2 separate regions of the Homo sapiens genome follow, and region 2 is linked to region 1. The links come from fine-mapping of genetic effects on gene expression. A gene starts in region 1. The other region holds a variant in brackets. All regions are shown on one strand. Distances are from middle to middle. Region 1 holds the start of KDM4A (lysine demethylase 4A). Region 2 holds the start of KDM4A-AS1 (KDM4A antisense RNA 1).

Region 1 (14,912 bases):
AAATAGTTTGGCAGTTTCTTAAAAAGATAAACACAAATTTACTATACAACCTAGCAATTATTCCACTCCTTGTTATCTACCCAAGAGAAATGTAAACAGACATTTACACAAAGGCTAGCATGTAAATGTTCATAGCAGCACTATTCCTAATAGCCAAAAAGTGGAAGCAACCCAAACATCAATCAACACTACAGTGGAATACTATTCAATAATAGAAAGGAGGGAAATACTGATGCATGCTACAACATGGGTGACTCTCAAAAAAATTATGCTCAGTGAAAGAAGCCAGACACAAAAGACCACATAGTCTATGGTTCTATTTATATGAAATGTCCAGAAAAGGCAAATCTATATAGACAGAAAATAGATTAATAATTGCCTGGGGCTGGGGGTGGGAATGGAGACTGATTATAACTGGGCACGGGTAATCTTTTTGAGGTGGTAGATTTTATTGAGGTGATGGAAATGTTCCAAAACTGGATTGGGTGATAGTTGCATGCGTTTGTAAATTTATTTAAAAATCATTAAATTATATTATTAAAAAGAACATTGTTAATGATAGCATATATCTAAATGTAAACAATTTTTGTGCATATAAAGCATTTAGCACAGTGTTTGAAATATAACAGCTCAATAAATGTAGTTAACTTTGTTTTGTTTGTTTGTTTTTTGTTTTTTGTTTTTTTTTTTGAGACTGAATTTTGCTCGTCACCCAGGATGGAGTGCAACGGCACGATCTCGGCTCACTGCAACCTCCACTTCCTGGGTTCAAGCAATTCTCCTGCCTCAGCCTCCCGAGTAGCTGGGATTACAGGCGCCTGCCACCATGCCCAGCTAATTATTGCATTTTTAGTAGAGGCAGGGTTTCACCATGTTGGCCATGCTGGTCTCTAACTCCTGACCTCAGGTGATCCACTGGCCTCAGCCTCCCAAAGTGCTGAGATTACAGCAGTGAGCCACTGCACCCAGCTGTAGTTAACTTTTTTTTTTGGGGGGACGGAGTCTCGCTTCGTCACCCAGGCTGGAATGCAGTAGCGCAATCTCAGCTCACTGCAAGCTCCACCTCCCAGGTTCATGCCATTCTCCTGCATCAGCCACCTGAGTCGCTGGGACTACAGGCGCCCACCACCACGCCCGGCTAATTTTTTGTATTTTTAGTAGAGACGGGGTTTCACTGTGTTAGCCAGGATGGTCTCGATCTCCTGACCTCGTGATCCACCCACCTCGGCCTCCCAAAGTGCTGGGATTACAGGCGTGAGCCACGTCACCTGGCCTAGGTGTAGTTAACTTTTTAAGCGAATAATATTGCCATTATGATTACTTATGTCATGCCTGCCATGTGCTCGGCATTGTGCTGAGTGCTGGATAAAGTGAAGCTCTAGGAAAGGAAACCCTGGACTGGGAACATGGCATACACTTTATGCCATGATAGCTTTATTTCCAAATCCTGCTGCCATTGGTGGCAAGTCACTCTAAAGGTGTTCTCCCCTATTCTTTTCCTTCATAGCAAGCACAACTTTGTGGCAATTTTTCTTTTTTTGAGATAAGAGTCTCACTCTGTCATCCAGGCTGGAGTGCAGTGGCTCCATAATAGCTCACTGCAGCCTCGAATGCCTCAGTCTCAGGAGTAGCTGGGGTTACAGGTGTGAATCACACCCAGCCTATAATTTTCTTTCTTTGTGCAAGCACTTGCTTCATGTCTCTCTCTCACTAGATTATAAAAACCATGAGTGCAGGAAAGGGTCTGTTCCACTCATTACTGGCAGGCAGGCAGATTCTGGTAGTCTTTTTGCTGGTGTGATAGAAGAAACAGGACACTGTCTCTGTCCTCCTTCTGGAGCTGCAGCAGTCACCTTACAATCACGAGTTGCACAAGAGGGTGGCAAAAGCCACGTTGCAAAGGGTGCAAGAGAAAGATGGAACATACCTGTATGTTTCATGACTTTGTTGAGCACTGAGCTAAGGCTCACCACCTTCAGACCTCTTATCCGATGAGAAAATAAACTTGTATTTAGCCACTTTTGCTAGGGTTTTCTATTTTTGGCAATGGAATACATTCCTAAACGGTATTAGCAATAAGACCAAAATGATATTCTCACGAGACTTTTGTCTAGTGAGGAAAGATGCACATGTAAACAAATCCATGCATTTGTAAAATACTTGCTTTGTGGAGCTCTGGACAGGGTGAGGTAATGGACTGCACCTGGCTTAAGCAATTAGGTCATGGCTCTTCCACTAACTGAGATAGGAAACCTAGGAGGTACAGCTTATTTGTGGGGCAAGAGTAGCTCTTTGTTGGGTAGGTCAGCTTTAAGTAACTGTAGGACAACTAGGGGGAGGGATCCAGAGACAGCAGGATACATGGATCTGAGCTCCAGGGAGAAGATGTCTGGGATATACAATGGGTGTCATCAGTGTGCACATGAGTGCAGCCTAAGAGTGAAAGTGTATTGAGCTCTTGTTTCAGGCTCTGTGCTAAGTGCTTTGTACCATCATCATCATTTACTGAGCTGACATTTACTGAGCACTTACTACGTGCCAATTAGACTTCTAACTGGTTTACTTCATTATCCCATTACTTCATTTATCTCATTCAATTCTCACAACCCAGAAAGGGAAGTACTATCCCAGTTTTAGTTATGAGAAAACTTGAGAACTAGAGAAATTAAGTAACTTGCTAGTGAGTTGTAGAGCCAGAAACACCTGCACGTGGGCAGCTGTCAAAAAAACAAAAACAGAAACAGAAACAAAAACCCACCTGGGCAACATGGCAAAACTCCGTCTCTACAAAAAAATACAAAAATTAGCCGGGCTTGGTGGCATATGCCTGTAGTCCCAGCTACTTGAGAGGCTGAGGTGAGAGAATCGCTTGAGCCCAGGGGGTTGAGGTTGCGGTGAGCTGTGATTGCACCACTTCACTCCAGCCTGGGTGACAGAGGGAGACCCTAACTCAAAGAAAAAATAAAACAAAAGCACCTAAGAAGACTGTGTAGAATGAGAGAAGAGGGCAAAGGACCTAAAGCTATGAGGACATTAACATGTTTTTCCTTTTTTTTTTAACTAAAAAATTTTAAATTTACTTTTAAAAACTAAGGTATATGTATATCAAAACTTATGCACAACTTTCAAGCATACAGATCAGTTAATTTTCACAGCCGGGCATGTTCATGCTTGGAAATTCCAGCACTTTGGGAGGCCAAGGCAGGAGGGTTGTTTGAGCTCAGAAGTTCAAGACCAGCTGAGACAACATAGGGAGACCCCACTTCTATTTTTTTTTTTGAGACAGAGTTTTGCTCTTGTCACCCAGGCTGGAGTGCAGTGGCGTGATCTCGGCTGACCGCAACCTCTGCCTCCTGGGTTCAAGCGATTCTCCTGCCTCAGCCTCCTGCGTAGCTGGGATTACAGGTGTGCACCACCATGCCCAGCTAATTTTTTATATTTTTAGTAGAGATGGGGTTTCGCCATGTTGGGCAGGCTGGTCTTGAACTCCCGACCTTAGGTGATTTTCCCACTTTGGCCTCCCTAGTGCTGGGATTACAGGCATGAGAGCCACTGCACCCAGCCTCCCAGTTCTATTAAGAATTTTTTGGCCGGGCGTGGTGGCTCACGCCTGTAATTCCAGCACTCTGGGAGGCCAAGGCAGGCGGATCACCTGAGGCTGGCAGTTCAAGACCAGCCTGACCAACATGGTGAAACCCCATCTCTACTAAAAATACAAAATTAGCCGGGTGTGGTGGCTCATGCCTGTAATCCCAGCTACTTGGGAGACTGAGGCAGGAGAATCACTTGAACCTGGGAGGTGGAGGTTGCGGAGAGCTGAGATCACGCCGTTGCTCTCCAGCCTGGGCAATAAAAGGGAAACTCCGTCTCAAAAAAAAAAAATTTTTTTTTTAAATTTAAAATTTTAGTGGCCAGGTGTGGTGGCTCATGCCTGTAATCCCAGCAATTTGGGAGGCCAAGGTGGGCAGATCACCTAAGGTTGGGAGTTTGAGACCAGTCCGGCCAACATGGCGAAACCCCCTGTCTACTAAAAATACAAAAAATTAGCTGGGCGTGGTGGCACACGCCTATAATCCCAGCTACCTGGGAGGCTGAGGCAGGAGAATCGCTTGAACCCAGGAGGTGGAGGTTGAAGTGAGCTGAGATGGCACCACTGCACTCCAGCCTGGGTGATAGAATGAAACTGTCTCAAAAAAATATCTATCTATCTATCTATCTATCTATCTATCTATCTAACCAATAAATAAAAGTAAGTTTTACAATGTGAACACACTAGCATAACCACCATCTAGATGAAGAAATAGAACATTGCCGCTGGGCGGAGTGGCTCGTGCCTGTAATGCCAGCACTTTGGGAGGCCGAGGCAGGTGGATCACTGTGGTCAGGGGTTCGAAACCAGCCTGGCCAACAGGGTGAAACCCCATCTCTACTAAAAACACAAAATTAGCCGGGCGTGGTGGCACGTGCCTGTAATCCCAGCTATTTGGGAGGCTGAGGCAGGAGAATCACTTGCACCTGGGAGGCAGAGGTTGCAGTGAGCCGAGATCACACTACTGCACTTCAGTCTGGGCAACAAGAGCAAAACTCCATCTCAAAAAAAAAAAAAAAAAATTCCTAACACCCCAGAGCATTCTTTGTGCCACCCTTTCCCATCATTCCCTGTCCCCTACCTAAAAGTAACCAGAACATTGACTTTTATTGCTATAGGTTAGTTTTGCTTAGAATATCGACATTTAAAGCGTGCAAAGGGGCTGGGCACGGTGGCTCACGCCTGTCATCCCTGCACTTTGGGAGGCCAAGGCGGGTGGATCACTTGAGGTCAGGAGTTTGAGACCAGCCTGGCCAACATGATGAAACCCTGTCTCTACTAAAAATACAAAAAAAATTAGCCGGGTGTGGTGGCGGGCGCCTGTAATCCCAGCTACTCAGGAGGCTGAGGCAGGAGAATCATTTGAACCTGGGAGGCGGAGGTGGCAGTGAGCCGAGATCGTGCCTGGGCAACAAGAACGAAACTCCGTCTCAAAAACAAAAAAACAAAAAAGCAAGCAAACAAACAAAAAGTGTGCAAAGGGAAAGGTGAGCTTAAAAAGGAAACAGGAAAACTGGTCAGAAAAATGGGAGCATATCACGAGAACTTGATTTAGGCTCCACCTATCACATGCACATACCAATTGGAAGCTAGTGATACACAGTAGAGGGCCCTTGGAAATCATCTGGCAGCACCAGGAAATACAGCAAAATCCAGTTTATGGAACACAGTAACAGTAACTAGCGACTGTATCCATGTCCAGGACAGTGGAGTCTGTGAAGCAACCTGCAGTATCTTGTGCTTAGTGGCAGCAGGAAAGACAGTGGTGGATGAATTCTACCGCAGGATTTGGGTTTTCTTTATGTGTCCTGCAAGTTGGATTCTTCAGACTCGGCACTTTTGTGAGCCACTCAGTATAATCTATTATCTAATACTGTCGATTACCTTACTGGGTAAGGGCAAAAACCCCTATTGTGAAAGACTTGTGGCTGCGTAGCCAACGGCCATTCTTTTTGAAACAGTCATTTCTGTTTTTGAAACTATTTTTTTTAAAGATTTTTTTTTCAGTAGGCATGTACCCAGCCTGAGGCATAAATCATGATTGGTCCATAGCATTCTATGAAATATGTTCTTTTTGCCAACATTCATTAACTCTCATCTTTACAAAATTTGCAAGGCATTATTTTTTCCATTTTATTGATGTGAACTCCCAGGCTCAGAGAAGTTACTAGTTTTGAACACAGGCCTGACTCCATATAGCTCTTTCCAGGGCACTACCCCATTATTCATCCATGGTAATTCTGTATATTTTTTTATGACTCTGGTTGTGGGTATTTTACTTTCCTACTTGACCTTCCCCACTACCCTTGACAATCTGGGAATTCCTTAAGGCGACTCACTACCCCTCAGGAACCGCTCCTAATGACTTCTAGGAAGCCCCCTCGCCCTCCAGAAGTGCCTCTTCTGATTCCCAGGATGCCCCCCTCTCCGCCCCAAGAGCTGCTCCTAATGATCCCCCAAATCCCCGCTCACTGAGGAACTGCTTTTTTTTTTTTTTTTTTTTTTTTAGACGGAGTTTCACTCTTGTTGCCCAGGTTGGAGTGCAATGGCGCGATCTCGGCCCACCGCAACCTCCGCCTCCCGGGTTCAAGCGATTCTCCTGCCTCAACCTCCGGAGTAGCTGGGACTACAGGCATGCAACACCACGCCCGGCTAATTTTGTATTTTTTTTTTGAGTAGAGACGGGGTTTCTCCATGTTGGTCAGGCGGTCTCAAACTGCCGACTTCAGGTGACCCGCCCGCCTCGGCCTCCCAAAGTGCTGGGATTACAGGCGTGAGGGACCACGCCCGGCCAGGAATTGCTTTTTAATGACCCTAAGGAGAGCCTCCCTCATGGTCTGTCCTAATGACCCTCAGGGCAGCTTCCCTTCCCTGTTCAGGCTTGACAGCGAATGAGGGGTTTCCAAGGCCACGGGATTTTGTTTTGAAAACCGAGACACCCAGGACAAACCGGGACAAGACGGTCATCTTTTCAGCACTCCCTGAGCTCGGAAGCTGCCCCTAAGGGCCCCGACACATTTCCACGTTAGGCAAAGAGGATACTCATCCCAAGAAAACTTTGGCCTATCCTTTCGTTAGCGACATCCTATAGTAACCTCACCGCCCTTACCCATCTACCGGACCGGCCCACTTCCAGGTACTAGCTTCTTTCAACCCTGATTAGTTATGGGTGACCAGGAGCCCGCCTATGATTGGCCAGCTTCGCGATCCAGCTAGAGGCTCACTGGCCGCGGTCCCTAGTGGTACAGCGTTTCCTCCCGGCAACAGCCCGAGCCGGCGCTCATAGGCTGAGCACACTGAGGTCGGGACTGGGAGGTGGCTGCGGCGCGTGCTCATTGGCTGGTGTATGGCTTGCAGCCACCCTTGAATTGGTTGACTCTGTACGGCTGCGCAGATGCCGACTTTAGAGGAGGCGGAGTTTCGGCCTTCGCCTGCTGGAAAAGCAGTAGGATCGGCCAGTGGCGACAGCAGGAGCTGAGCCTAAGCCCTGGCGGGGCTTTGGGCTGTAGGTGAGAACTATAGGGTTTTGGAATTCTCGAGGATCATTGCCGCTGTAGCAGTGACCGTGAGTTTTGGTGGGGGAGGGGCGGTGGGGGTGGGTCTTCCAGCGGTGAGTGATCGGCATGTTTCTCGGCCAATAGGAGAAGGAGCTTCCAGAATGGGTTCTGAGATTGGTCCTTTCCAATCTTCAAGGCCAATGGACCTCGGGAGAGGGGGGCGGGTCATCTGGGCCTTATTTTCTTCTTCCTGCGGCCGAGCTTCACTCGCCAAGGCGGCGGGGCCGGGAGGGGCCGAACCTGTGCGCGGTGAGGTTCGGGGACGGTGGGGAGCAGGGTGCGCTGCCTTTGGAGTGATGCTCGCGGGAGCGGCTGCGAGGGAAGGGTGCGGGAGTCCGAGGGGGTTGTTAGCAACAGCTAGCTTTATTGAGTGGGTAAGTACCGGGCCTAGTGCTTAGTGCTTCGCTTGCATCATCTGAGCTAATCACAGCGACCCTGCAGGGCAGGGGGTTGGGATCCCCATTTTACAGGTGGAGAAACTGAGACTCAAGTCAGCTCACACAGCCAAGGTCACATAGCTAATAAACGGCAGAGACCGGATCTGTATTCAGAGTTTTGACTTCGGAGCCGGTGTTCTTGAATCTCTAGGCTTTGTTACTGATTGGGAGGGAAGGTGTCATGAAACGGGAGCTTTCCCCAGGGAACAGATTTGGGGGAAGGGAATCCTAGGGTTGAAGAAGGGATGAACAATTGAGGTGAGGGTGAGGAAATCAGTTTTTCAACAGTTACCGATTGCCTACTCTGTGCCATGCATTGTTCTAGGCATACAAAGATGAATAGGGGCAGAGGCTGATGAAGCCCATTAGGGCCCCTTTGAAGGCCCGGGGAAGGGCCCCAACATTGTATTCACATGATTGTATGTTTTTATAAAATGTGCAAAAGTAAGATATTTTGGATTCATTTTTCTTTTTAAGAGGGTCTTCAAAATTAAATAAACTTCGGGTTTCTCCACACTTGGAGCTGCCCTTGCAGAGGACTTAGTCCAGGTGGAGATGAGTATGTAAGCAGTATAGAGCAGTGGAAGGTGCACTTAAGAGTGGGCTGTGGGCAAATTTCCTGGTATGTAAAACAGGGAGAACAGTATACCTGCCATGCAAAGTTTCTGCCAGGTTCATGAAAAGCGCCTGTTTAGAAACACGCCTTATTTTTGATAGGAAGCCTAGGAGATACGGGTAACTGGATTTGCCTTCTCTCCTACCTTACACAGTTGTGCTCCGTGTTCTGCTCCCAGGCCTGTAACTAGATTTCTGGTGGATTGGAGGCGCTTTTCTCCTTTCTGAGCTCTCCAACTCTCAAAGAGAGTCTTGGAGCTGAACCGCCATACCTTTGGGCCCCAGATAGGGGGTACGGAACTGCTGGACCCTCAGTGAGGAGGGTGGGTAAAGGAAAGGACATACTGGTGTTCCTTCTAGAATGGCCTATTTTCATTGATATGCTTTGTCTTTTTTCAGTTGAGGTGGTCTATTGCGTTACCGAGCTGTGGGGATGCACCCACTTAGCTGAAGTTCTCATCTAAAAACAAAGTATTTATTTTGCTTTCTCCAATCAGTTATGAAGTTTTCCGTGTATTGCCAGTTTAAATTTTGTCCTTTGAGTTCTGGGTACAGTGCAACTGAACTTGTCTGTAGCTTGATTTCATTAAGTACTGCTGAAACTGCATCTTAGTTTCAACAGAACAGTTTCACTTTAGGGTTTTAAAATTATGTTACTAATATCAAAGGGCTTTTAAATCATGTTACTAATATCAAAGTACTTTTGAACCCTTAAGTTTTGTTATCTTGTAGCCACGTAACTTTTATTAGGTATCTGGTTTAGCTGTGCCCTAGGGAGGAGCCTTGGCCTCCCAAAGTGCTGGGATTACAAGGCGTAAGCCACCGCACCCAGCCATGGGTGGCTTTCAAGTTGTAGTGTATTCTGTTTAATACTCTGAAAAGTGATTAGCAAGGTGTTAATAAGGGAGTAGCTTGAAAGGATAAGGGTAAAATATGGGCATTTTAGCTGTACTATTAGGACCAACAACTAAATAATTAGTTTCCTTTTTTTAGCTGAAACAATTTTCTTTTTTTTTTCTTTCAAGAACAATCCTATTGCAGTAACAATGTCTCTGTTGAAATAAGGTTTGAATCCATGCAGTTTTGATACATCAGGTTCTTTTTAAACAGAACCTTTTCGATCTGTATTTCTAGTTTATTTAAATAACTTTTTGTTGTTTATTTAAAAAAAATTTTTTTTGAGACAGGGTCTCACTATGTTGCCCAGGCTGGTCTCAAACTCCTTAACTCAAGCGATCTGCCCACCTCAGTCTCCCAAAGTGCTGGGATTACAGGCTTGAGCCACCACACCCCCACCCTAAATTACTTTTCTTTCTTTCTTTCTTTCTTTTTTTTTTTTTTTTTTTGAGACGGAGTTTCGCTCTTGTTGCCCAGTCTGGAGTGCGATGGCGCAATCTTGGCTCACTGCAACCTTTAGCCTCCCGGGTTCAAGTGATTCTCCTGCCTCAGCCTCCCGAGTAGCTAGGATTGCAGGTGCCCGCCACCATGCCCAGCTAATTTTTTGTATTTTTAGTAGAGACAGGGTTTCACTGTGTTGGCCAGGCTGGTCTCAAACTTATGACCTCAGGCGATGCACCCGCTTTGGCCTCCCAAAGTGCTGGGATTACAGGCGTGAGCCACCGTGCCCGGCCCCTAAATAACTTTTCTAGAGGTAGATTCCAGGTGTGAAGTCTTAACTGTGTCTTTTGAATTTCTATATTATCTTTTACTGTTTTCAGAGTTGATGTTTCCAGCACTTAATTTTAATTTTTATATTATTTTATACTCTTAATGTGTTTCTTCAGATTCCTGTCTGACTAAAGGGACCTCAAAAAGGAGGGAAAATGGCTTCTGAGTCTGAAACTCTGAATCCCAGTGCTAGGATAATGACCTTTTATCCAACTATGGAAGAGTTCCGAAACTTCAGTAGATACATTGCCTACATTGAATCCCAAGGAGCTCATCGGGCAGGGCTAGCCAAGGTAAGGAGCTGGGATTGTTCAAATGGTTTTGTTACCTAGGGCAGAGCAGTAAGATTTTTTTCCTACATTTGGGCCGGAACTGTGTTTTACTGAAAGTTGGGTGGGGTGATGACTTTAGTGAATGCGGTTCTATTTGCAAGTTAATTCCCGTTGTTAACATCAGAAGCATCTCTGCTTTTAGGTAGGAAGAGAGCTACTTGGAATCTTCAGAAAGGGGGAGGTAAAGAGCTAGTGTCTCCAGGCCTGGCTGCTGTTGTGCCTCAGCCCTCTTGGTGGAGCTGGGTGCTGTGGTGTTATTGAACTGCCAGTGAGTGCTTATGCCATCTGACTTCTCTTGCTCTCATTTCAGTCTCATCCAGCACTCTAGTAGCAATTTGGCTTCCCATGTGGACTTTCTTCAAGGGGAGAGAATGCACTGGCCAGCCAACATGAGTATTCTGGTCCTTGTAATTTGAAATTGGTTTCTGGTTTGTACTTCTTTCTCCTGTGAGTTGGATTCGTTATTTTTCCTGAGTCAAATCAGCTTTTCATATATTCTGTCACAATCAGGTTGAGTGCTGGAAGCTGAAAGAACTGCATTTCTGGAGAGATCCTCAGGAAACTGAGAGGCAGGGACCTCAGTCTAAGCCAGGAGGAAATTTTTTACACCATTTTATGTTGTTTGAATTCCCTACCATATGTGCTTGTTACATTTTCAATATGAAAAGAGAAAGCAAGAACATTGGCTACAAAGCTGAGGACCAGTCTTGGACCCTGGTGCCTCCAGAGACTTGAGACGACCACATCCTCTTTCTTATCTGCAGATACGGCTACTGCTGGGTTAATAACAGCAGGCGGGAATAGCAGGGCCTGCAGTGCAGTTTTTCATAGCACATTGCTTTTTTTGGTTGTACTTTATTAGATTTAAAGTTACCAAAAAAATGTCGGTTATTACAAGTTAAATATTTCAAACGCAGATAAAGAAAAGGCTGATCTTCATCCACCTTCTCCAGTGCCGTCTCCTTAAGTGGTATTAGCTCCCTCCACACCTTTTTCTCTGCTCATACAAACATACACACATATAAAATAGTGTTATTTGTTTTGTTTTTAAAAGAGAATGGCATCATGCCATATACATTCCTGTGTTGGTTCGTTCATTCTTTTTTCTTTTTTTTTTTCTTTTTTCCTTTTTAACAACATATATTCCTCCCTCTAGGTCAATTATGGATTCAACTCATTCTTCTTTTTTCTCATGTCGACTGTCTTGTTAATTTATTACTATTGGAATGGGTAATTTGATTATGTGAGTAAAAACAGAATGCTATTGGAAGGTAGCTAATGTAGAGTCTTGCTCCCTTTCCGTATTTTCTTATATGTCCTTTCAGTGTTGCCTTATGCAGATGCTTGTGAGTGTGTGTGTGTGTGTGTGTGTGTGTGTGTGTGTGTGTTGTTTTCTCCCTTGTTACATAAAGTAAAACAATACTCTCTAATTAAAAAAAAAAAAGCTGTATAGTATTCCATAAAGCAGATCTATCTTACTTAACTATTCAAGATTAGATTTTTTTTGTTTTTTTTTGAGATGGAGTTTCGCTCTTGTTACCCCAGCTGGAGTGCAATGGCGCAATCTTGGCTCACTGCAACCTCTGCCTCCGGGTTCAAGCGATTCTCCTGCATCAGCCCCCCAAATAGCCGGGATTATAGTTGAGTGCCACCACACCAGGCTAATTTTTGTGTTTTTAGTAGAGATGGGGTTTCACCATGTTGGCCAAGCTGATCTCAAACTCTGACCTCAGGTGATCCACCTGCCTCGGCCTCCCAAAGTGCTGGGATTACCGGCATGAGCCACTGTGCCCGGCCTCAAGATTAGATTTTTAAGAATGTTATGCTTCTTTGTAATTAAACTGTAATCTAGTGTGTGAAAAAAGGAAATTCTGTACAAGTATAGAGTTGACCAAATCAAGTAAAGTTGTGTTTGTGATTTTTTTAAAGAGAGCCCTGGGCTAGGAGATTGAGAGAGAATCAAGTCTTTAATCTCCTTTCTTGGTGTCCAAATAAGATACTGAAGCTGGGAACAAGTATTACTTACCTTAGGTTGCTGCAATTAGGCAGCTGGTTGGTGGCAAAAGTGGATCAGGGTTAGCATGCCTGTGACTTACTGTGTTTTGGTGAATGTGGGTAAATCAAAGTAACTGTCTAGTAAAATTGACTGTTAGGTTGGCTGGTAACTACATGCTTCCTGGACTCTGACTGGCTTGCCAGGTTTCTCATCTGTCTTTTTGTTTCTTGTGTTCCCTTCAGGTTGTTCCTCCAAAAGAGTGGAAGCCACGAGCATCCTATGATGACATTGATGATTTGGTCATTCCTGCCCCCATTCAACAGCTGGTGACGGGGCAGTCTGGCCTCTTTACTCAGTACAACATACAGAAGAAAGCCATGACTGTTCGAGAGTTCCGCAAGATAGCCAATAGCGATAAGTGAGTGGAAACCCTTTCTTACCTGACATAGCACCTAGGACCCTGGTGTCTCATCCTCCTAGCATCTCCAGGACTGCTGCTGTCCTGATGAACAGTGTCTTCAGCAGGATGGCTCTGTTCTAGCTGTCTCCCTTTCTGCTTTTTTTATGGAAGCATTCCCTCCTCTCAGGACTGTGTCCCAGTCTAAACCTGTTCCTGTTCTTATAACAACAAATCCCATTGTTTTTCCATCAGAAGTAGAATCATTTTCTGACTCTAAAGTTGCAAGGAGAAAGTTGGATGTGGTGCACAAGGAGCTTTTGCTGGGTATTATCAACCACCTGCTCATCAAAAGTGCTTTAGTTCCACTTCCTCTCTCTCGGGATGCTCTGTGTTTAATTGTGCTGGAATTTCTCACTGCCCATCCAGCCTGCTAGCTCATTTCTGTTTTGACATTAACAGTGTGAGTAAACCACCAAGCTGGTTGCTATTTTCTGTCACTCCTTCTTTCTCTGTACATTCCTGTCTCTTTTAGAGATATCTTTCTTTGTGTAGGCCTGTTTTCAGTTCTTCTCTGCTGTTGGTTTTTTTTTTTTTTTTTTTTTTTTTTGAGATGGTGTCTCACTTTATTGCCCAGGCTGGAGTGCAGTGGAGTGATCTTGGCTCACTGCAACCTCTGTCTCCCAGGTTCACGTGATTCTCCTGCCTCAGCCTCCCAAGTAGCTGGGACTACAGGCACGCGCCACCATGCTTGGCTATTTTTTGTATTTTCAGTAGAGACAGGGTTTCGCCACATTGGCCAGGCTGGTCTTGAACTCCTGACCTCAAGTGATCCTCCTGCCTTGGCCTCCCAAAGTGCTGGGATTACAGGCAAGAGCCACCACTCCTGGCCCTTCTCCGCTGTTTTTAATGTTTAGTTCTCATTTTTCCTGAGATTCACAGAGAATAAATTTTGTGTTTCCTTGTTCAGCTCTGACTACTCCATCTTTTTTTTTTTTTGAGGTGGAGTCTCGCTCGTTCCCCAGGCTGGAGTGCAATGGTGCAGTCTCGGCTCACTGCAACCTCCACCTCCCGGGTTCAAGCAATTCTCCTGTCTCAGCCTCCCGAGTAGCTGGGATTACATACAGGCGCCTGCCACCACGCCTGGCTAATTTTTGTATTTTTAGTAGAGACGGGGTTTCACCGTCTCTACTGTCACCCAAGTTGGAGTGTAGTGGTGCAATCATGGCTTACTGCAGCCTCGACTGCCCAGGCTCAAAATGATCCTCCTTGCTCAGCCTCCCAAGTAACTGGAGGTATAGATAGGCATGTGCTACCGCGCTCAGCTAATATTTTTTATTATTTGCTGCCCAGTTTGGTCTTGAACTCCTGGGCTCAAGCGATCCTCCTGCCTCAGCCTCCCAAAGTGCTGGGATTATAGGCATGAGCCACTGCATCCGGCTGACACCTTAACTCCTTTTATTTATTTTTTTTTTTGAGACAGAATCTCGCTCTGTCGCCAGGCTAGAGTGCAGTGGCGTGATCTCGGCTCACTGCAGCCTCCGCCTCCTGGGTTCAAGCAATTCTCCTGCCTCAGTCTCCTGAGCAGCTGGGATTACAGGCGCCCACCACCACACCTAGCTAATTTTTGTATTTTTAGCAGAGGCAGGGTTTCACCATGTTGGCCAGGATGGTCTCGATCTCTTGACCTCGTGATCCACCCGCCTTGGCCTCCCAAAGGGCTGGGATTACAGGTGTGAGCCACCGTGCCCGGCCAACCTTAACTCTTAAAACATCTACCTTGCTGGCCAACCTGCTGACCGATGAGAGAATTTACATAAAGGCATGTTGAAGAAATGTGGGGCTCTGCAGGTGAAAGGCTGTATCCTTCCTGCCATCCTTATTGTCTGATTTTTGCTACACATGAGGAGCAAACTCACCTGCCTTCTGTTTCTCACATGGAATTCAGCCAGGGGCTTCAGTCTCCTCAGCCTTTTTTCCCTTTTTGTTAAGGCTTTTTCTTTTCTTTTTTTTTTTTTTTTTTGAGATGGAGTGTCGCTCTGTCACCCAGGCTGGAGTGCAGTGGCACAATCTTGGCTCATTGCAGCCTCCGCCTCCCAGGTTCAAGTGATTTTCCTTCCTCGGCCTCCCGAGTAGCTGGGAGCCCGCCACCACGCCCGGCCAATTTTTTTGTATTTTTAGTAGAGATGGGGTTTCACCATATTGGCCAGGCTGGTCTCGCTTTTTCTTCTTTTAGCACACTTGTTTTCCTTTTAAATTAACCAGCCCTATGTCTATTCCTTTCGTCCTAATACATAGCAGATTACCTTTAAAGTAAAAAC
Region 2 (14,912 bases), 50 kb after region 1:
TCTCAGCTGTTGGGCAGCTCGTTTTCATGGAGTGAATCTTTGTGCTTAGGCTTGTGTTTGGTTGCTCTGAGGTGGAAACGTAAGATGAATGAGGTTTCTGACCTGGAAGAGCTAGCTGTCTAGGGCATGGTGCGTGCAGGTCAGTGCTGAGTATCCTGCTTCCAAGTAGAATCCCGTGGCAACTTGCAGCATATGTTCAGTCCAGCCGCCTGCCCTCAAGAGTCCCAGTTATGCTGTCCCTGAGAGATAGCTACTCTGCCTGCTGCTTCTGCTCCTTCAAAGGCACTTGCTGCCATTATTTGAGGTCACTGGGTTCCTCACAGTCACAGGATAGTGCTGGGAACATTCTTTCTTATTTGGAGTGGAAATGGCTGTGCTTGAATCTCTCACCTTTACCTCTGAATGCCTGTTCTGCCCTCCAGGGCCACACAGAACAAATCTGTTCCCACTCTAAAAAGACAGCCCCACTAGAACTGCAGAGAGCTTCCATGGAGCCCCAGTGTTGTCTGGTGTAGGTTTTCACGTAGCATGGTTTTAAGAGTTGTCACCATTTTCGTTCTTCTCCTCTTGATGCATGCTGGTTTCCCAAAATGTCCAAAACTTACTTTAATTCTTAAGGATGTCCGTTGAATAGACCTCTCAGAGTAAGTGGGGCTTGGGTCAGACCTTAAAGATTAAAGAGTGAGTCAGCTATGGAAAAAGGGAGCAGAAGGGAGAGGTCATTTCAGCCTGGGGGAGAGGTTTGGGCAGAGGCCGAGAGAGAGCTGTGATTACTGGCAGATTAGGGCACAGCCGGGGACGTTTTCAGGAAGCACTTGGGTCCTATGGTAAAGAGGTCTGCATAGAGCTTTCCAGTTTATTCTCACTCCCTGAGACCTGCCACACACCATTAGCCTGCAGCTCTGTTCATTTTTCAACAGAGTGGTGTAAGAAGCATGATCCGGTGCTAACCTAGGGCAGTGGGCAGTGGCCTAGGTGGGCAGTGGGGGTGGCACTGCTTCCACATACTCAGAGGAGAGACGGTTCTGGTTCTCACCTTCCTGGGTCCCAGGCATGTGCTGGTGGAAGTCAGTGGTCACCCAGGTGAGGGAGGAAGCGCTGTCAGCAGGCCCAAAAGAGAAGGCCACAGAGCCTTGGGCCCAGAGGTGACTGAGGGAGCCTTTGCCTTTTGGCAGGTGGGTCCACGTTTCATGTGCTGTGGCAATTCTGGAAGCAAGGTTTGTCAACATTGCAGAAAGAAGTCCGGTGGATGTGAGCAAAATCCCCCTGCCCCGCTTCAAACTGGTAAGGGCTTGTAGACTCTACATAATTTCCCGACTTACAAGTTTCTGGGTAGAAGAGAACAGGGACCTCCTGTACCCCTTGGTTTTGGTTAGAGTTTGTGATTCTCACTCTGTGGTTAGATTCCTTAGTGGAGGCCAGGTGTGGTGGCTCACACCTGTAATCCCAGCCCTTTGTGGGGCCGAGGTGGGTGAACCACTTGAGGTCAGGAGTTCAAGACCAGCCTGGGCAACATGGTGAAACCCCGACTCTACTAAAAATATAAAATTAGCTGGGAGTGGTGGTGCGCACCTATAATCCCAGCTCCTCGGGAATCTGAGGCAGGAGAATCACTTGAACCCGGGAGGCGGAGGTTGCAGTGAGCCGATATTGTGTCACTGCACTCCAGCCTGGGTGACAGAGCAAGACTCCGTCTCAAAAAAAAAAAAAAAAAAATTTCCTTGGCAGATAAAGTTGTAACCAGACCTGGATTAGAGCAGGCTGGTGTGTCCTTGTATTTTGGGAAGGGGCTGGCTCTTGCTTGCTTGGCTTTGCATTTGGGAGGGGAACAACAGAGGAAGCTGCAGTGCCAGTTCCTGCAATCACTGGTTTTCTTCCCCTGTGCTACAGAAATGTATCTTCTGTAAGAAGCGGAGGAAAAGAACTGCTGGCTGCTGTGTGCAGTGTTCTCACGGCCGCTGCCCAACTGCCTTCCATGTGAGCTGCGCCCAGGCTGCCGGTGTGATGATGCAGCCTGACGACTGGCCTTTTGTGGTCTTCATTACCTGCTTTCGGCACAAGATTCCTAATTTGGAGGTGAGAGAGGGTGTCATTCTAGAATCCTCTTGACAGTTTTCATGGTCATTTTCTCTGCATGTTTTCCATTTGTTGTATCAGCAACTATTTCCTCAAGCATTCTGCATTATGAAGAGTGCTAATGAGTTAAGAGATTGAGAGGTGGCCCCTGTCCATCTCCACTCCCTGCCTTGTACTCCATAAGCCAGTGACACCAAACTGCTTGTAGTTGATTCGTTTTGATTATCTCTTTACTTGTCTGCCTCTCCATCAGAATAAACTCCTTGAGGGTCCATATCTTATTAATGTGGTCATCCTTATTACTTAACCTAGTGTCCGGGACATGCAGAACCTCTGAAAATGTTGAGAACAAATGGGGAGAGCTCCCAAGAGTTAACCATGAATTGCCAGACAGTAGAGATTTCTGCAGTTCTCTTAATGGTAAAGCTTAGAGAAAAAGTGACATGTAATGTTAGCTAGAGGAGCTCTGAAGAGGATTGGGTAGACGGTGGCATTTGAAGTGGGTCTTAAACAATAAGAAGGAATTGTATGCAGAGACTGTTGTGTGCAGAGCTTGAGAAACAGAATGAACAGGTCGCAGAAGAAGGATCATGAAAGACTGGTTATGGGAGTGTGACGGTGTGTGGGAGTGTGATGCTTGAGAGGCGGACAACGGCAGAGGATGAAGGCCCTGCACTGCCACTCTCAGGACTCTGACCTGTCTTCACTGGATGAGAACTTGTTGAATATTTTGATTCTGCATTATAGTTTTTGATAATCACTCAGGTGGTTGTTTGAAGAGAGGATTCAGAGTAAGAATTTGAGGCTGGAAAACCAGTTAGTCCAGGAGAGAGTGAGGTCTGAAATGGGAACACATAGGCAGGGCTTTGGGGTACATTTAACTTTGAGATCCTCCAACAGGTAGAACTGATAGGGTTTATTGACCCTCGTGGGTTGAGGAGAGAAGGGGAGAGGAGGAGGAAAGGGGGAGTGAATATTGAAGATGACTCAGGTTACTCCCTTGAGAGATGGGAAGGATGCTAATATGATGTTAGTAACTGCAATCAGGAACTGAGATGAAGCAGTGTTGCTCTGCAAGGGAGAGAAGGAGGGATGAGAAAGAGGAAAGTAAATGCTGAGGTCACTGGAGCATTCTGGAGAGTAACTGTGAGGGTAAAGATTTGGCTATTAGCATTTAACAGCATAGTTAAATCTAGTTCCCATTAGAAACTGGGCTCTGGAGATTCCCAGTGGGAGAAGCAGGTAGCAGAGCATGAACCAGTGAAAGCAGTTGAGAAAGTGAAGCAAGCCAGTGGGAGGAAGGAGGGTCATATCCAACAGAGAAGGCAGGGCTGGTGTGGTGGTCACTAAGTACCACAAACTGGAGTGTCCCTGTGGAGTAGTCAGGTCAGAAGCCAGACCGTAGTTGGGGAAGGCTCTGCCATGAGTGAGTTACAATCTAATAGAAGAGGCGATCATACAAGTTTGACAACAGTGTGGTAAATACATAATCAAAGGAAGAACGTGATAGATGGCCAGCCCAGAAGGATGAACTTTTCACTCTGCCATTTGGGGTTGCAGAAAAGTCCTGGTTGGCTGACTGCATTCTTTTTCATAAAGATGTTGAACGTGACAGGTGGTCAGGGGTATGATAGGAAGGACCTTAGGAAGATGGGAACATATTGTATGTGAGAATGAGACTCCGGAGTGTCTCAAGGGCCCTGCCCTAGCCATCCCTGGTGCCCTCACCATGCCCTTCTCATTCTGAACTTGCCCTTAATGCAAGTAAAAACTTGAGGTAGTACTGAGTCACAGCTATGATAGGGAAGAGTTTTTTCATACACAGAATAGTTATTTTGTGATAATCATTAATACTCCACATGCTTAAGCTGGCAGCTGTAGACTGCTGGTGCTATGAGGAAATTGGGGGGACTGATGAGTTAGTAGTTTTTTCACTGATTTATTCTTCAAATGTTTATTGAGCATTTACTATATGCCAGGCACAGTTTTAGGTGCCAGGACTATACCATTGAACAAGACAAAAAAGTCCTTGCCCTTCTGGTGCATACAGTATAGTTGAAGGACACATAGAAGCAAGTAAATACACAGTATAGCAGATGGTGAGAAGTGCAGGGATAAAAATTAAGTCAGATAAGGGGAATGGAAGATGAAGTAGTAAGGAATGACATCAATAAGTTGACACTGGGATGGGAGTCAGTGTGCAAGTAACTGGGGAATGGCATCTCAGGTAGAAGAACCAGCAGTGTCGAAGCCCTGGGTGGCAGCACATATGGCACACTCATTCAGGGAACAGCAAGGGGGGCCAGCATGGCTGGGGCAGAGTGCCTGGGCAGGCTAGCAGGCGTGCTTGGAAATGAGGCCGTCACATACTTTGTGATCCTGTTTGCATCAAGGGCAAGTTCAGAATGAGAAGGGCATGGTTGAGGGCACCAGAGATGGCAATGGCAGGGCCCTTGGAATGGGGGACAGTTTGTTGTGTGTAGCTGGAGACATCTGGGAAACCTAAGTCTTTGTGCCCTAGCCCTGAGGGTAATGCTGCAGGTGCTAAGATGTGGTGCAGCTTTGCCTGGCGGCCCAGGCCTCAGGGCACCTATTGAGTCTCTCCTTCGATACTTTGATGTCAGTTCTTGGCAAGATCAGAGGTCCATGTTGTTGTTCAGAGAGTTCTGGGTAAGATAATATGGTATAAGGGCCAGTTGTGGACTAGCTAAATTTATGGGAAGAGCTAAATTTATGGAGGAAATGTGGTACTGGTCTCTTCCAATGTCCTGGCTGGGATGGTGGGTATCTGGAAAGGCTTGTTTTAGCTCCCATCTCTTCTCTCCTTTTTACTTTTACTTTCCCATGCTTATCTTTCCCTGATAAGGAGGAACTAATTGATCTTCATCTCCATATGCCAGGCCTGCAAACTCCACGTGTGAGTAACCAAAGCCTCTGTTTTTTTCCAGCGTGCCAAGGGGGCCTTGCAAAGCATCACTGCAGGCCAGAAAGTCATTAGCAAGCATAAGAACGGGCGCTTCTACCAGTGTGAAGTGGTCAGGCTCACCACCGAGACCTTCTATGAAGTCAACTTTGATGATGGCTCCTTCAGCGACAATCTTTATCCTGAGGACATAGTGGTAATATCTGCAAGGAGCTTCTCAGGCAGTTTGGAATGGGGGGATGTTTCTAAGGTCTGGCTGGCAGACTGTGTGTGTATGCCTGCTTCTTCTAGCCAGGTCCCTGGTCCCATCACCATGTCCTCAAACAGAAAGAATCATCTGTACCAGTCTTTCTTTGCAAAGAAAACTGCGTGCTGCTAGGGTACCCTATTTTCCCTAGAAGTACCTGGGAATCAGTATTTTCTGCAATTCCTTGAAACCTGCATCTGTTGCCGTCTAAATTATCCTTGAGGGCATTCTAGTGCAATAGGAGAGCCCAGGCTTTGGAATCAAATATGCCAATACCAGCTTCATTGCCTAGTAGCTGTGTGATTTTAGGGGAATTATCCAACTCTCTTTTCTATCAGGCCCTCTTAGTAGATGTATAGAATCTGCTTTTGTCTCTTCACAGTGGGCTTTAGGGCTAAGTAGAAACTGCCTGGAGACACCCTTGGCCTGTTTATGTTATCAACACCTGAGACACAGTGGCCCCACATGGACCCAGTCCTAGGTCTGGCTTGGTAGTGAGGACTTAGTTCAGGTTTCCCCTACCCCCACCTTGCCTTTTCAGTTGGTAGACTGACCACCAAAGTAGAGAGGAATGAAACCATTTTTTCCTTTAACAAATCAGGTATTGTCCCATGTTTATACCACATTAGCCACTCAGTTGCTAAAAGCACATTCATTAGTTATAAGGTAGACTTATAGAAAAGGCGACATTAGTAGTACTCATAGCAGTAGCATAGCTATCATTTATTTATATTTTATTTGTGAGACAGGGTTTCACTCTGACGCCCAGGCTGGAGTGCAGTGGCACAATCTCAGCTCACTGCAGCCTCAACTTCCTGGATTGAGGTGATCATCCCACCTCAGCCTCCCTGGTAGCTGGGACTACAGGAACGCACCACCACAGCCGGCTAATTTTTTAATTTTTTGTAGAGACGGGCTTTTGCCATGTTGCCCAGGCTGGTCTCAAACTCCTGGGCTCAAGTGATCTGCCTACCTTGGCCTCCCAAAGTGGTGGGATTACAGGCGTGAGCCACTGTGCCTGGCCTTATTTTTTTTTTTTTTTTTTTGAGAGAGACCAGGTCTCACTCTGTCACTTAGGCTGGAGTGCAGTGGCTGTATCATAGCTCCTGCAATCTCAAACTCCTGAACTCAAGTGATCCTCCTGCTTCAGCTTCCCAGGTAGCTGGGACTACAGGCACATGCAGTCACACCTGGCTAATTTTTAAATTTTTTGTAGTAACAACGGTCTTGCTTTGTTGCTCAGGCTGGTTTCGATCTCGCAGCTTGAAGCGATCCTCACATCTTGGGCCCCCAAACCACTGGGATTACAAGAGTTTGAGCCACCATACCTGGCCCTTGCTGTAATTTATTAAGCTGGTACAGTATGCCAGGCACTATGCTAAGTGGTTATTTCAAGTATCTCTTTATCTTCTCATACCCACTGTGAGAAGGATGTGGTATTATCTCTAACTTACAGTGGTTTCAGGACTCCATTTTCTACAAGTTAGAGACCCCAAAGAGCCTGTGTTTCTCTGGGTTACATCTAAACGTATTTATTCTTATTAGAAATTAAAGCAGATTGATTTAAAATAATCAATTTTTTTAGATTAAAAATAACTTTTCTAAAACAAAAACAAAAGATTGCCATTTCCCTGCAATTTTGCAAATCTCTTTAATGTCTTTTTTTTTTTTTTTTGAGATGGAGTCTTGCTCTGTTGCCCAGGCTGGAGTACGGGAGTACGGTGGCATGATCTTGGCTCACTGCAGGCTTCACCTCCCAGGTTCACGCCATTCTCCTGCCTCAGCCTCCCGAGTAGCTGGGACTACAGGCGCCCGCCACCATGCCCGGCTAATTTTTTGTATTTTTAGTAGACATGGGGTTTCACCATGTTAGCCAGGATGGTCTTGATCTCCTGATCTCGTGATCCGCCCGCCTCGGCCTCCCAAAGTGGTGGGATTACAGGCGTGAGCCACCGCGCTGGCCTTAATGTCACTTCTTGATTCAATCTATTGTGATACACTGTTTAGGTTCAAGTATAGGAAGAAAATTCAGCCTTGCGTAGATATGTAATTGGAAAAAGGAGTTTGTTTTTGTTTTTTTAAAATAGGGTTTCACTCCAGTCACCCACGTTGGAGTGCAGTGCAGTGATCTCAACTCACTGCAACCTCCACATACCAGGCTCAAGTGATTCTGCTGCCTCAGCCTCCCAAGTAGCTGGGACTACAGGCCCTTGTCACTGGCGCCCAGCTAATTTTTTAATTTTTTGTAGAGATGGAGTTTTGCCTTGTTGCCCAGGCTGGTCTCAAAACTGGGCTCAAGCAATCCGCCTACCTCGGCCTCCCAAAGTGCTGGGATTACATCTGTGAGCCACCACTCCCAGCCAAGGGAGGTATTTTAATAGTCTTTCAGGTAATTGTGTTTATTATTCTCTGATATCCACCAAAACTCAATGGAAGTAACAACTTTTTTTGTTTGTTTGTTTGTTTTAAGAGATGATGTCTTGCTTTGTTGACCAAGCACCTCCCGAGTAGCTGGGACTACAGGCATGCATGGCTATTTGTAGAAATGGGGTCTTGCCATCTTGCCCAGGTAGTCTCAAACTCCTGGGCTCAAGCGATTTCTTTTGCCTCAACCTCCCAAAGTGCTGGGATTACAGGTGTGAGCCACTGCTCCTGGCAGGTTCTTAAAAGTTAGTTGCAGTGTGGAATCTGAAAGGTCAGTGAACGTTTCATACTGTTAACACT[A/G]AAACCCATTGGTCTCTTCTGAATGGATCTTTCACCCATGCATCCTTTTATAACATCATACTTTGGTCATTTAGAAAATATTGGTGCACTGGCCTATCGACAGCCTCCAAATGTTGTTAAATATTATTATAAATTTAATTTTTTTTTTTTTTTGAGACAGAGTCTCGCTCTGTCGCCAGGCTGGAGTGCAGTGGTGCGTTCTTGGCTCACTGCAACCTCCACCTACCGGGTTCAAGCGATTCTCCTGCCTCAGCATCCCAAGTAGCTGCGACTACAGGTGCACGCCACCACGCCCAACTAATTTTTGTATTTTTAGTAGAGAGGGTTTCCCCATGTTGTCCAGGATGGACTCAATCTCTTGACCTCGTGATCTGCCCGCCTTGGCCTCCCAAAGTGCTGGGATTACAGGCATGAGCCACCACGCCCGGCCATAAATATTTTAAAAATTACATTTGTTAGTATCACTAATAATCAAAAAACTTGGAATTTTGGGAAGTTTCAAGCTCACAGTTGTGAATGCCGCTTCTCTGAAATGCTAATATTTGTTTGAAAGCCTGAATTTTACTATTGGCAACAGATACTGACTTTTGTTTTCCTTGACATGACAGGCGTTCACTTCATGCATTTTCAAGAAGATGTCTGCCAGATACCTAAGTCTGAAAAGCCATAGTTTGTCAGTCACTTTTTTCTTTTTTTAAATTTTCATAGAGTTTTTTAAAGACAGGGTCCTGCTCTGTTGCGCAGCACCACTGCTGGAGTGCAGTGGCATGGTCATGGCTCACTGCAGCCTCATCCTCCCGGCCTCAAGCAGTCCTCAGCCTTCCGAGTAACTGGGACTATAGGCGTGTGCCATCACACCTGGATAATTTTTTATGTTTTGTAGAGATGGGGTCTCCCCTGTGTTGCCCAGGCTGGTCTTGAACTCCTGGGCTGATGCGATCCTCCTACCTCTGCCTCCCAAAGTGAGGGATTACAGGCATGAGCCACCATGCCTGGCCTAGTAATTTTTTTCAAATAAAACTGGTATTCCATGAACAAAGCAGCTAGTGTAATTCACAACTCAAACAACACAGATAGATTTCTTTGAGACAACCAAAAGTGTCTTATGAGGACTTAACACATGTACTCAATGATTAAGATTTAACAACATTAATAATTTTTTACTGCTTCATCAAGGGATATTGTTACATGCAATCTAGAGTTTTTGCTCTTTTCTCCTAAATTATGAGTGTACAGTGGTGAAAAATGCAATAACAACTAGTAGAGCTTAGGGTCAGTGCCTTGATCTGTGCTCAGGTGCCAGCAGTTGTACCTATCCTAGGTAAATGACAACACAGTGACAAAGGCTAATAGTTTAATATTATAAAAATAGCCATGTCTCACTTGCTCCCTGACAGTGTCTCAGGAACCCCTCAGAGGTTCACAGACCACATTTTCAGAAGTGCTGTTATAGGAGGTGGAACTGAATTGCAGAGAACTTAAACAATTTATCAAATATCAAACATTTGAGTAGTTAAATCTTAGAACACCTCAGATATTGGGTGTAGGAGGCTGTAGTTTATGCCTAATTGTTAGATTGATACAAAATGTATTTACTGATTACCTATTCAGTAAATGAATTGTCAATAAGTAGGGAACTGTTTCCACTCAATAAATGAACTGTAGCATGATTGTAAGAGCAGATGTGAGCATCCACATCCTTTTAGACTCACTGCCCTGCCCCTCTCTCATTTTTTAAGCCATGTCCCTAAGGACCTTCTCCCAGGTATACCTATCAGACCTTTCATTCAGCCAATATGCTGAATGAAATATCCCCCCGTATACCAAGCCCTATGCTGGGAATACGATGAGGACTTGGGGTACTTACCTGCTTCTGGAAGGAATAAAAGTTCTGAAGTACTTTGCCAGGTCCCATGGTAGGTGACTCTTTTTCATCTTTCCTGTTAAGAACATATTTCTTGGTTGGGCACAGTGGCTCATGCCTGTAATCCCACCACTTTGGCAAGCCGAGGCAGGCAGATCACCTGAGGTAAGGAGTTCGAGACCAGACTGGCCAACATGGTGAAACCCCGTCTCTACTAAAAATACAAAGATTAGCTGGGCATGGTGGCACGTGCCTGTTGTCCCAGCTACTCGGGAGGCTGAGGCAGGAGGATTGCTAGAACCCAGGAGGCTGAGGTTGCAATGAGCCAAGATCAGGCCACTGTATTCCAGCGTGATCTCAGCTCTCTGCAAGCTCCGCCTCCTGGGTTCACACCATTCTCCTGCCTCAGACTCCCGAGTAGCTGGGACTACAGGCGCCTGCCACCACACCTGGCTAATTTTTTGCATTTTTAGTAGAGATGGGGTTTCACCATGTTAGCCAGGATGGTCTTGATCTCCTGACCTGGTGATCTGCCTGCCTCAGCCTCCCAAAGTGCTGCGATTACAGGCATGAGCCACCGTGCCTGGCCAAAAAAAACACATGTCTTATAGTTGAGTATGGTTCTAGTATTTCTTCATGGCAGAGCCCTGGAGAACCCGCAGGGGAACAGTTGAGGGAATGTAAGAAGGACTCTTGATTCTGGCACTTAACTCCTGTGTTTACTAAGTTTGTTATAGCTGGATTTTTTTTTTTTTTTTGGTCACCTAGAAGCAGGAGAGGGCAGAGATAGGGGCAGACTTTGACTTAGCAAGGTCTTTAACTGTTAACATTTTTCAGCCCAGAGAGCTGCCTTGCTCTCTAAAACAGTTACTTTGTCCTGGTTCACTCTTCCCTGAGTAGAGGACAGTTACCTTTGTGTGCAGGTGGACGTTCCTTTCACCCTCCTTCCTTCCTGTTTCCTCAGAGCCAGGACTGTCTCCAGTTTGGTCCTCCTGCTGAAGGGGAAGTGGTCCAAGTGAGATGGACAGACGGCCAAGTCTATGGAGCCAAGTTTGTGGCCTCCCACCCTATCCAAATGTACCAGGTATCCAAAGTTCTACCTTTCTAGGGAGTGGGGGGTGCTTGATTAATTCTGTGCTTCCTGTTGGGCCAGAGGCGAGTCTTTGCTCTTAGGAGAACTAATAGGTTGGTAACCCTTTCAGAGCTAGGGGTCTGCCCTGTTTCCAGTCTGCCAAATGTGAAGTAAGGTAGTTGTTATTTTAGTGTTCTAACTCCTTCCTTTGACTGTAGGGGACTGCCACTGTGCATGGTGGACCAGGGAAAGAGTCAGGGATATCCTAGCCAAAAGGCCTTTGTTTCCTTGGTAGGTGGAGTTTGAGGATGGCTCACAACTTGTGGTTAAGAGAGATGATGTATACACACTGGATGAAGAGCTTCCCAAGAGAGTCAAATCTAGACTGGTGAGTATTTTCTGTGTCCCCCCAGTTCCTGTCTTGGAGGGAGGGAACAAGTCAAGGATGCATCCCTTTGTATTGTTCCTGGGGTAGCTGACACTTGGCTTGCTTATTCTTCTATAGTCAGTAGCCTCAGACATGCGCTTCAATGAGATTTTCACAGAGAAAGAGGTTAAGCAAGAAAAGAAACGGCAACGAGTTATCAACTCAAGATACCGGGAAGATTATATTGAGCCTGCACTATACCGGGCCATCATGGAGTAGGTGCTTCCAGGGTCCAAGGGATTCTCAGCCATCCAGGCAAGAGCACTCTGGGTTCCACAGCACAGCAGACATGGAACGCTGAAGTCTCTGAAAGTGAAGTTGTAAAAAGAAAAGGAATGAAATAACCGACCCATCATCTTCTCACCCACCCTCATTGCATTCCGCTGTAGTGAAAGGACGAGCCATTTCTGGGCACGTGGCAGCAGTCGCTGATCTCCCAGCTGAGGGGCTGAGCACTGGAATGCTGTGGCTGCACTGGCCCCAGTCCATAGAGGGGTCAACTATGCTGGCTGGACTGGCTGCCTTGTTCCTGGCCTAGGACTTAGCTTCATAACTATCACCTGCACCGACTAGGCTGAGGTGCTGGTACTTGCCCCAACCCCTACTTTTGTATTTATATGTGTGTGTGTGTGTGCGTGCGTGCGTGCGTGCGTGTATGTTTGGTCTGGACCAGCTTCTGCCAGCCCCTGGCCTTTACTTTCTTCCTTGCCTATGCAGGGCAAACAAAATGTGAAATTCTGCCCTCAGCTGAGCTGAGTAAGGGCTCCTGGGGGTTGGCTGGAGATGGGTGTGGCATCTGTCCAGGCCTGGAACCGTCTCAAGACAGTGCTGGCAAAGCTGCAGTATTGAGATGCTAAGGAGCTGATGCCACCTCTTTGTCTTCCCCTAAAGGAGAACATGGGGATAACATGGGTGTGTGCCCACAACACTCTAGGTGCAGAGCCCCTGTGGCAAAGTATTACAGGGTGTGGGTGGGGATTACCCTGAATCGGGGATTTTAATGATGGAAGCAGGCAGAGCCTGGTGGGTGATTCTGTCAACAGAAAATTGCAATCATGCAGGGGCTGGGAGGGTTAGGATGAAAAAACTGGGGCCATTGGAGGCCCACTGTAGGTGGGAGGGAGCTGATTTTGGGGTGGGGGGTGGGACTAGAGGGCAATACTGAAGGGGTTAAACAGGTTTTTGCTCCTCAAGAATTTGTTTGCCTGGGCCCAGGATTGGAGGGCTTCACACCAATACCCTGTGTATACAAGAATCAGATTTATAATACTTCCCCTTTTTTGTTACGTATGAACACTATAAACCAAATTATTTTGAAAACTGGTGCATCACCTTGTCCTTAGCAATAAAATGTGTTGAGCAGAGGATTGGCTGTCTGCCCCAAGGAGCCCACGTGGCCCACGTCAGGCTGGGGGGTGTATCTAGAGTCATAGGCTCTGGAGCGGGGCTGTGTATTTTAAGACAAATCAGTAAGGCATTCCCTAGGAAGTTCCAGAGAGTGGGTCCTTTGCTTGTCAAGCTCTGTATTAGGCCAAGTATGGTGGGTCATGGGAGCAGGGACACTTCTGGCTCTGAGCACCTCTTTGTTGTGCTTGCTCTGCCTTAGAGACGGGCAAGATGAGGTAACAGAGGAAGCACCAGACCAATGAGTCCTCTCAACAGAGTATCTCTCACTGCTGCCCCATTTGATACATCTTTGTTGAACTGGCCTAAGTTCATGCCAGCATCTGTGCTCTATACAAATTGTGGAACCAGTGGGAAGGATGGGTGCATTTTAGGTGCTTGAAAAGCAAGGGACTCAACCTCCAGTGGGATCCTCAGATTGCTCTCCGAGCTGTCTAGTTGGTGAGAAGCTTCCCTGGAGGAAGACCCAATCTCCTTTGGCTGGTAGATCCCTGAGGTCAAAGTGGACAAGGATGGGGAACCACAGAGCAGGGAGGGGGGCAATGAATAGGTGCAGGACTTGGGTGCCCCGGAGCTGCACCGGCTGGCCCTTAAACAGCCAGGCACTTCCTGTGGCATGGCCCTGTCCAGGTGCAGGAGAGGCTTAGGTCAGTTCAGCTGCTCTGGATGCTTCCTTGTGTCCCTGGGGGTTGAGAGGTGGTTGCTACTTGGTATCTCATTGTGGAGAAAGGGAGGTGCAGGAGGTGATCTTTTCTATGTCAGCTCCCTCCTGGGGCCCAGGGAGGGAAGTTGGCCTTTTTTTTTCTTTGCCCACACTCCACTTGGGGATTCCCAGGGGATGTAGCAAGGGAGGCTGGGCAGAACCAGGCCTTAGTGGATTGGTGAGAGAACACTAATCCATACATCTTTGGAAGAGAGGAACACTTCACCAGCCTTTTTACACAGGATCCCTACCTTTCTCGATGACCCCACTGCCTCCAGGGGTGGGCGCTGGGTTTAATCCCAGCAGTTTTTACTCAACAGCTGACCAGTTTTCCAGAAACTGCACTTTTTTTTTTTGGTCAACCTAATAACTCTTAGGAAACTGCAACTCAGGTGATCCAAATCACACAGACCGGCCCGTTCTCTCCCCTACTGGCTGCCTATGCAGTCGGGTCGACCTCAAGAGAACTGGCCCCAGCCAAAAGCGGCACCTCCCGGCCTGCCAGTCCCTTCCTGCCTTAGGCAGCTCCTCCCAGAAGCCTTTTTGTAGGGCAAACTGCCTTCCCTTTGTAAGGTAGGGCCTTTGGATCCAAGGTTGCAGTTTAAAGACCACCCCGACTTTGTTGAGGAATTAAGTTTTAAATTCCGCCCCAGGCGGATAACACCAGGGCTCAGCCGCAGGAATGAAAAAGGAGTGGGAGGGCTGCAAAGTGTACGTGGGGCTTGGAGGCCTTGTGCCACGCGCGGACTAAAAATGTTCTACGAGTCTCTTAACGCTCACCCCCGTGCCCCCTTACCCACCAGGGCCCACGGAGGTCCGAAGCTTTCGGCCTCAGTGAGCGGAATGGGTGCGCTCACGACCTGGAGGGCGAGATGAGATGTCCCTCGGCGTGAAGTGGCCGTGACTACCCTAGCACTTTGCGTTCCCCGCGCGGGCGACGAAACACGCTCTCGAGGGGAGAGAGCCGTGCGTCCTCTGGGCCGTGAAGCCAGGGGAAGAGGGTTCCTCTAGACAGCTCGATGTGCCCGGGAGAGACACCCACGCTGAACCTGCAAGCTGGGGTGCTCCACCAGCGCGAACCTCTCGCCCCGCACTCGCCGCAGCACTGCTCTCGTGGTAGGCGGGGTGGGCGGGACGGCAAATCCGCGGCTCCTGCGTCTATTGGGCTGCTCGGGGCAGCGCAGCTCCGCATTGGCCAGGCCCTCGCTCCGCCCGGCTTCCGCGAGCCCATTGGTCGCAGGCGCCCGACCGGGTCGCGGCCGCGCGCTCCGCCCGCCGCTGCGTCCCCACTATGGCGGCGCCCATGCAGCCCAGCGCGTTGTGGGCTCCCGCCGGGGTCCCCCGCGGCTGTCGCCGCCGCCTACGCCGCTGCCTCCGCCTTCCTGCCCCGCGTCGGGCCGGGCGCCACCTCCCCCCTGCCTCCCTCTCCGCTGTGGTAAGGGCCTGCCCAGTGCGCTTCGGGGCGCGATGGC

What was found. PIP is the estimated chance that this variant, and not a neighbour inherited with it, causes the effect.
Region 2: its variant is fine-mapped to the expression of KDM4A in nasal epithelium (TOPMed, PIP 0.94).

The regions. Positions count from the first base shown.
Region 1 is chr1:43,643,155-43,658,066 of GRCh38, forward strand. It overlaps KDM4A (lysine demethylase 4A), which reads left to right and starts at 6,995. Exons shown (of 22, transcript NM_014663.3): 1 at 6,995-7,098; 2 at 9,983-10,159; 3 at 12,437-12,612. The coding sequence starts at 10,022. RefSeq lists a silencer at 6,762-6,881.
Region 2 is chr1:43,692,819-43,707,730 of GRCh38, forward strand. It overlaps KDM4A (lysine demethylase 4A), which reads left to right. Exons shown (of 22, transcript NM_014663.3): 17 at 1,176-1,284; 18 at 1,891-2,076; 19 at 5,025-5,195; 20 at 10,799-10,918; 21 at 11,202-11,294; 22 at 11,412-12,700. The coding sequence ends at 11,552. It overlaps KDM4A-AS1 (KDM4A antisense RNA 1), which reads right to left and starts at 14,523. Exons shown (of 5, transcript NR_033827.1): 1 at 14,241-14,523; 2 at 11,535-11,639; 3 at 10,746-10,829; 4 at 9,838-9,910; 5 at 6,906-7,934. ST3GAL3 (ST3 beta-galactoside alpha-2,3-sialyltransferase 3) reads left to right here and starts at 14,718. Exons shown (of 12, transcript NM_006279.5): 1 at 14,718-14,875. RefSeq lists enhancers at 14,153-14,670, 14,396-14,475 and a silencer at 14,606-14,912. The variant A/G (reference allele first, on the strand shown) is at 7,971.